Homo sapiens: one gene and its partner. The protein of the gene in region 1 purifies or fractionates together with the protein of each later gene. This does not show direct contact. Each region holds a gene or a part of one and is shown on either strand. Other genes may lie near its edges.

Region 1 (4,549 bases):
AACTGCCCACCTACTTACTGCACTATTGAGAAAAAGCTGTAATCACTGAACATTGAAATCTACTATGGCAGTATAAGCTGTGGTACGCTACACATATTCTACACATGGAGGAAAACACATTTTCACTGAAGAGATATAGATCAGTGGAATTTTTTGGTAATGCAAATACAATCAAATCAAAATTTAGATTGGAAATGAAATAACATGAAGTACTAATCTCACAAATATTTGTAACGAAAAGTGATTATGAAAGTAAATCGTCAGAACTGCAACCTATATCACATATTTGTATTGGAAAATATTAGTGTATTCAGAATAAATTGTTATTTAAAAAAATTTAAGTACCAATCAAAGGCTGACACACTGGGTAGGATAAAAAAATTTTAAAACTCCTGGAATAAATTATATTACAAAGGTATCACTAGAAATATTCAAGCATAAATGGAATGTAGACAAAAATGAAATATTCTGATACATATTTGAGAAAATGCGGTAAGAGAAAATATTATTCATAAAGCACAAAAGGAAAATGAAAACGTAATAACCCACCTTCCTAGAGTGGTCCCCTCCAATAGACTGATCTTCCCCGTCCACATCTACCATTGGGCATGGTGGAAGGCTGGGGCTGAAGGCCATGAGGTCCGCCTTGGGCAGGCCCTCCCCAGAACACACCCTCTGCCGCCTCTGCTGCGAGTAAGACCAGCTCCCCACCGCGCTAGAGCACACCAGCGTGGGCTTCACCGGCCCACATGCGCCCTCGGTGGGCGCCGCCGAGCACCTCAGTGCAGTGTACAGCAGCAGCGTGAGCACCAGCAAGCTGGACACCGCGCAGATGGCGATGATCAGGTACACGTTGACATCCACCAGGGCCACCTCGGGCGCCACGCCCACTGAAGCCCGCGACGAGGCCTTGGGTGCCTGGCTGCCCTCCACAAGCGACACAAGCACAGTGGCCGTGGCCGTCAGCGACGGCTCGCCATGGTCCTTCACCAGCACCAGTAGGCGCTGGCGTGGCGAGTCAGTCTCATCCAGAGCGCGCGTCGTACTGATCTCGCCCGTGTACAGCCCCACGCGAAACGGGATGCGTGCACCAACCGCCGCCGACTGCAATTCATACGACAGCCACGCGTTGTATCCAGAGTCAGCGTCCACTGCGCGCACCTTAGCCACCACGTGACCCGCAACCACCGACCGCAGCACCAGCTCACTGACTGCACCGCCCGCGCTGCCAGCGGGAGACGCCAGCAGCGCGGGAGCGTTGTCGTTCTCGTCCAGCACGAACACCTGCAGCGTCAAGTTGCTGCCCAGAGGCGGCACGCCCCCATCGCGCGCGCTCACCTGGAACTGTAGCAGCTCCAGCTCCTCGTGGTCCAGCGGCTGCAGCGCGTACACCTTGCCGCTCTCCGCGTGCACCGACACGTAGCTCGACAGCGAGCGCTCGCCCAACCGCCGCTCCACCAGAGAGTAGGACACCAGGGCGTTCTCCTGCGCGTCCGCGTCCCACGCAGACACCGTGAAGATGTGGCAGCCTGGCGGGTTGTTCTCCTTCACGAACACCGTGTACTCGGACTGCGCGAACGCAGGCGCGTTGTCGTTCACGTCGGCCACCTCCACAGACACGCTGGCCGTGGCCCACAGCGGAGGCGAGCCCCCGTCCCGCGCGGTCACCACCAGCTCATAGGCCGACACCCTCTCGCGGTCCAGAGCGCTGTCCAGCACCAATGAGTAGTAATTCTTGTAGGTGGACACCAGCTTGAACGGAACGTGAGGCGTCAGAGAGCAGGTGACCTGTCCGTTGGCTCCTGAATCATGGTCAGAAACGCTGATTAGGGCAATGACGGTGCCCACTTGAGCATCTTCTTTCACTGGGAGAGACAGAGAAGTGACAATCACCTCAGGTGAATTATCATTTTCATCCAGTAGTTCCACTAGGACCGTGCAGTGACCAACCATAGGTGGGTTTCCCTTATCTGTAACATCTACATGAATTTCATAAGTGTTACTGTCCTCAAAGTCAATAGCATCATTTACTTTTATTTCTCCCGTCCTTTCGTTTATCCAAAATTTCCTTCTTATCGTGGGTGGGACCAAAGAGCTAAATGAATACATCATTTCCTTGTTTATTCCTTCATCCGAATCAGAAGCGTTGAGCCGTATTACTAATGTTTGGTTCACTTGATTTTCATACATCTTAACTTCATAAACCGGTCTGTCAAAGATAGGGGCGTTATCATTGGCATCTAACACCAGGATCAGCAGAGAAACAGATCCGGTAAATTCAGGTTTGCCTCCATCAGTTGCTGTCAACAACAACTTTAGCTGAGGATTTTCTTCACGATCCAGCAGCTTCCGCAGAACAAGCACTGGGAATTTGTCTTTGTCTTTTTTGTTTATAATATCAAGAACAAAATACTCATTTGGACTGAGTTTGTAAGTAAGCAATGCGTTCTCTCCAACATCCGCATCAGATGCGCCTTCTAGTGGAAATCGAGAGTCAAGCAGTCTGGATTCAGGTATTGAGAGCTTTTGTTCTGTTACGGAGAACCTGGGCGGGTTGTCGTTAATGTCCTTCACTTCCACGTCCACATGGAAAACCTGCAGCGGCCTGTCCACGATCACCTCCAGGTGGATGCTGCACTCCACGCTCCGCCCGCACAGCTCCTCGCGGTCAATCCGAGAATTCACAAACAAAATGCCATTCTGCAGATTTACCTCCAGAAGGTCCCCGTGTCTTTTGGACGCCACCCGGAACAGGCGCTGCACCAGCTCCGCCAGCTCCAGCCCCAGGTCCTGCGCGATGCGGCCCACGAAGGTGCCGTGTCTGGCCTCCTCGTAGACTGAGTAGTGGAGCTGGCCGCTCCCCACCTCCCAGGCTGCGAGGAGAAGAAGCGAGAGCAGCAGACACTGGACCCCCAGGCAGCTACATCTGGAAACCATCTTATCCTTCTCTTGTTTTACAAATCGACGAATCAGCGGTCTAGAACGCACATACGATCTGACATTTTCTGTCCTATTTCTTATATCTATTTTTTATCGAAATGGCTGAGATCTCAGAATGACGCTACTTCCTAGTCCTTGAGAAACTGGCTGATGCCTTTGTTCTAAAAAGCTATTTTGTGGACGACAGCGACATCCGGTGGCTTTAGGTGTAAGTACGATTCCATGAGTTCACAACTTTTCTTTCATTCATATGTTAATTCTTTTTTTACGTATTTTTATGTCTATGGACTTTCAAAGCCTCACATTACGTCTCTTTATAGTTAATAACAATAAATGTTGATCCCACGTGCAATGTTTTCTTAAATGTAGACTCTCAGAGTAGTGATTTCTTCCCTAACCACATGATTATCAATAGCCGAATTTCAAAATGCCCTTAATATTTGCATACTACTGAGTATACTAATATTTTATTAAATGACAACTTTAGTTCCATTTAAGTTCTGACACTTAACTTACTTCTCTTTCTCATTATTTTGAGATTTAATAAGGTTTATTTAGACACTAATGTCAAGCATCAACTATCTGTGAGGTGTTTATAACTCCGAAGATCTAGTCATCACTAGAATTTAGAGATCATTAGCTTCAACATCAGACATTTCTCCATTTAGATTCCTATTATCCTACTCACTAGCCACATGACTTGGGAAAATCGTTTAACCTCTCCCTCCCTCATGTTCCAATTTTATAACTTTGGCCTAATAGTAATACGGTGGTTGAGTGAATTATAATATAGTAAGTGCTTGCAATAGTACCTTAAGGAGAATGAGTGCTTCATAAATGGAAACTATTCTCAGGCCTCAATTTGGCCACATTTGTTTTCATGAGGCTCAATACCAAATTTGGCTCATCAGGCAAAATTATTACCTATAGAATGCCTTAATTATTGCTACTGCACAGGCTGAGAGTGGTGGTTTCTGTATTTAAGAAAACAGAAAAGTACTATTACAGAAAAATCCTTTATACAAGAAGTTTCATTTTATAATATCTTACACGGGCAAAAAGAATCTTAATTATAATTCTGAATAAAGTAATTAAGAAATTTATTATTTCTGCTTTCAGAGGCAAATGCTTTCAACCCTGTTATATTTACGCTTTTCAAATGCCCAAAAGACACAGTTCTGAAATATATCTAGTAATTTTATCAATGTCAGTGAAGTTTTTCATCACCACTTGCAGTAAAAATATTTTTTTCTCTCTCAAAGTTCTTGAAATCAAATATTCAGGAATGAAAATGTAATATATCTGTGCTGCTGAAAAAAACTTGAGTTTTCTGTCTTTCCAAGAAAGGAAAACTTAACAACAGACATATTGGTCTTATGCAAGGGTTAATTTATTTTATTTAATGATGTTTTGACTTTTCTAAAGAATATTTTTAAATGTGTCAATTACTTTAAACTTTTTTTATTAAAATCTGAATGACAGAGCAACAATATTTATGAATAAGAAAACTGACAGAAATGGGTGTCACTTAATCCATCAGTTTATGTGTCCTACTAAATTCTGTTTCTATACTTCTCTACTCCTCTGGAATGCCTCTTGCATCAAAATT
Region 2 (3,814 bases), on another chromosome or scaffold:
TTCTTAGTAAATAATCATGAGTGTGTACCAAGACTTAGCAATCATATGTTCTTACAGCATCGTTTATGATAGAGAAAAATTGGAAGCAACTTAAATGTCCATCAAAGAGAACTTGATAAGTAGGTCTTCACTAAGTGGAATGCTATGCAGCCATTTAAAATGATGATGTCAGAGAGTATGTGACAGCAGTGAGCAATGAACAAGTTTCGTTAGGCTGGAAAGGGCAGGTTTCTATGCAGCAATATGTATTACGCTGGCTTTTTAAAGTACATATGTGTATGTAGATGTGCTTAAACAACAGGCTAAAAGAACAGACATCAAAATGTTAATAATGCTTAACTATGGATGGCCGTATGATTGTTTATTAATTTTATGTTCTTTTTCCCCTCTCTGTATTTTCTAAACTTGCTTCAATGAGCATGTATGTTTTTAAATCCTTTTTAAAGAAGACCATAGAGCCAGGTGTGGTGGCTCACACCTGTAATCTCAACACTATAGGAGGCTAAGGCAGGAGGATCACTTGAGCCCACGAGTTCAAGGCTGCAGTGAGCTATGATCACACCACTGCACCCCAGCCTCAGCCACAGAGCGAGACACTGGCTCAAAAAATAATAATAATAAATAAATAAATAAAAATAAAGCAAGCCATCAAGTGTAAGGTTAAGAATCAGCACTCCCAGCTATACTCGTGTTTCTCCCTGCCCCCACCCTGGCGAGTGGCTTTGTCACTGTGGCAACCGAGGGTCTTCAGATGACATGTGCATCTCCCAGGGTGACGTGTGGTATGAATGGGGTTTTCTGACAAGGAACCATGAGATATGTCTTACATTGCTGATGAAGCCCTAACCCTGGGCTTATAAACGGATTATTTCTTTCTCATTCTTCTTACCAAGTAGACATGTGGCTACTGCCCAGAAGGTTACCCATTTACCTTCTCCAGGTTACCATGGTCCATGCGTATTCACAGATGATCCAGAACTCTCCTCTTTGCTCATTTCTGGCAGAGTCCGTCTCAGCTGATGAGTTAAAATGTGACATTTCCTCCCTCCCCCCGCCCCATGCATGATGATTTCTTCTTCAGTTATGCTCTTTCCCAAAGACATCAAAACAAGAGTGATTGTTTAGAAATTACCCTCGTCCTACATTTGCTCCCAATCTGTTTGATCTTTCCCTGATGTTATCAGTGATGTGCGTTTCTCCCGGGGTGCTTACGCCTTGTATTTGTGTCTTCCTCCGTGCCCAGTCCCGGCTGACGAGCCAGAGCGAGGCCATGGCCCTGCAGTCGATCCGGAACATGCGCGGGAACTCCCACTGTGTGGACTGCGAGACCCAGAGTAAGTGTGTGCGGTGGTAGCAGGGGCTGGCGCTGTGTAGCTGGAGACCACATGGTCCCACTAGGCCCGGGTTGCAGGGGACTCACATCTGTCCTGTTTGGCAGATAAGAGTTAACTGCTTTTAGGAAATTGAGATATTTTGTTTGGATTTTACCTTAACAGAGTGCCTTCCACACAAGCCTCACCCCTGGCTGCAGGGTGCGTTTCTGTGAGTCTTTCCTTGCCTTAGGCATCCGATGAGCAGCAGTCATACCTGAGGTGCAAAGGATTCAACCCCACACCCACAGCCTGTGCCAAATCTAGGAAGCCCAGGAATTCAAGACGAGCCTGGGCAACACAGGGAGAACCCGTCTCTACAGAAAATTAAAAATTAACTAGGCGTGGCAGCTGGCTTACTTTTTGCTTAATCAGTGATCACTTGTTGATTTTTTTTTTTTTTCATAAAAATAGAATATAATTGGTTCATTCCTGCCTAGAGATTCTTGGGTATTGTTTTTTTAAATTCACAATCATATGTTCTGGGTTTTGCCATCAAATGATGTCTTGTTTTTTTTTGGTCTTAAATCCATTACCCACTAAAGCCTCTGATTGAACTGATAGAAGTTGTAATTACTGCTTTGTGCCATCGAGTACCCCAGTTTTATTTCATGATTTCCGTTGTCTAATCCATACTATTACTTTCCCTTTGAAAAAGTCATTTTGTTGTTCATAATCTTGAGAGTAGGGACTTATTTTCATGGTTGCAGTCCCAGCCCAGAGACAGTATTGGAGACATTCAGTAAATTTCTTCCCTTCAGATTTTTTTTGTTAAGTAGTGTTTTGAAGAGAAGGAAGTTCAGTTCAAACAAGGTAAGAGGTGCTGGTACCAGGCTGGGTGCTGCCCAGGAGTCAAACGTGCATGGCGTGGTGGGTCCTGCCATCCTGAAGCCTGAAATGCACTGGACAAGGCACCAACCTGCTGACCATGGAGCTAAGCGCTGGGGAGAGCCATCGGGGGCATGCGGCGGTCTTGCCACCCATGCAGGAGCTGTCGTGTCAGCAGGGCTCTGGAGATGGGCAGGGTTTGTACAGGGAAGGGGCCGAAGGAATCACTGTGAGCAAAGGGAGTGGCTTGAGGAGAGCTTCTCTGGGTGGTTGTAGGATTAGAGATGCTTTTTGGGCTGGAAAACCAGTAGAAGCTAGTTGGAGTGTGAGTGCCAAGTGAAACTTTTTCCAGCTTTGTTCTTCATTTGTAAGCAGAGAGACATCATTGGAGTTTTAGAGCAGGAAGGAGATGGACCCTGAGCTCCACTTGGGGAGATGGATCTGGCCAGACCATTTTGAACATACTGGAATAGAGGCAAAGCAGGGAGGAGGCCAGCCAGGGTCGGCTTGGCCGGGAAGGGAGACAGGAGCCCAGGACTGCTCCAGACAAAAGGGAAAGGAAGCGCCCCCTCCAAGAGTCCACTCAGCAGCATAGCAGGCAGGGGAGAGATCAAAAGTCTGTCTGCGGCCTCTCTGGAAGCCTGTCCTGCGGGTGAGGGAAGGGGTTCTTCTCCAGGTATCTTGAGGTTCTTCTTTAAAGTACCTCCTTATGTTTGAATGTTTAAGTTTTACTTTCAAATGTGTGGTGAAATGAAGTTCGAAGAGAGAAGCAGTTATTTGAAGTGTGTTTCTATCAAAAAGTTTTAAAAGTAAGAGCTTTTTTAAAAGCACGAATCTGAGAAATATTAGAACATCCATTAAGGAAAATGCCTGCAGTTGTTTCCACCGTGCGTCTGAAGGTCGCTTTAAAAGGAAAGCCATCCGTGGCTTGCGGGGACCATGATACCTGGCAAATCGGAGGTCGCAGGTCCTGTCTGAGATGAGCTTGTGCATGTGAGTGCGGATGGGGGGTGGGAAAGGGAGGCCAGTGCAGGGGAGGTGTGGGCCAGTTTGTTCTGAGCAAGACCACCTGAGCAGATGGACAGGGACAAAGGGAAAAGGCAGAGTTTGACAATTCAGGAGAAAGAGGCGATACCAAGCACGCATTTGCTAAATGTGTGGTCTGTGTCAGCCCGGTGCCAAACCCTCCCATGCGCTGTCTTTTCATTCTGCAACCCTAGTAGTTGGTGCCCCTGTGGGCCCCACTTAAAGGGGAGGAATTGAGGAGCCTGAAGGGTCAAGTCATTTGTCTGAGGTCACAGAAATAGCAAGTCCCAAAGCAGGATTCAAACCCATCTGTTGTCCAGCCTGCTGTATTTTCTCAAGAATGGAAAGGCTCAGAAGATGTAGCACATTGGCAAGGATTTGTTAAGTAAAAATACCCAATTTTGGTTAAAGTACCGGGATAGGTACAGTGCCCACACTGATGATGAACTGTAAACACCTCCATGGGGCCTTTCGACAATGTATATAAAAAGCTTTTGAAGAGTGGATGCCCTTGACTCCAGCTGTATACTCCAGGAACTAAACCAATGGGATTGAGTAAGGCGGGTGCAGAGATCTGTCTTTCCAGATGT

The links.
Region 2: the proteins of PCDHA10 (region 1) and AGAP1 purify together in Homo sapiens (affinity purification with mass spectrometry, with the first as the bait; one large-scale study listed by BioGRID). This does not show direct contact.

What each region holds. Positions count from the first base shown.
Region 1 is NC_000005.10:140,854,437-140,858,985, reverse strand, and holds the start of PCDHA10 (protocadherin alpha-10 isoform 1 precursor), read right to left. Parts: upstream 3,090-4,549; 5' UTR 2,938-3,089; coding exon 550-2,937; coding exon of another isoform or gene 403-549; exon of another isoform or gene 1-402.
Region 2 is NC_000002.12:236,039,508-236,043,321, forward strand, and holds part of AGAP1 (arf-GAP with GTPase, ANK repeat and PH domain-containing protein 1), read left to right. Parts: intron 1-1,243; coding exon 1,244-1,334; intron 1,335-3,814. UniProt on the Homo sapiens protein: GTPase-activating protein for ARF1 and, to a lesser extent, ARF5. Directly and specifically regulates the adapter protein 3 (AP-3)-dependent trafficking of proteins in the endosomal-lysosomal system.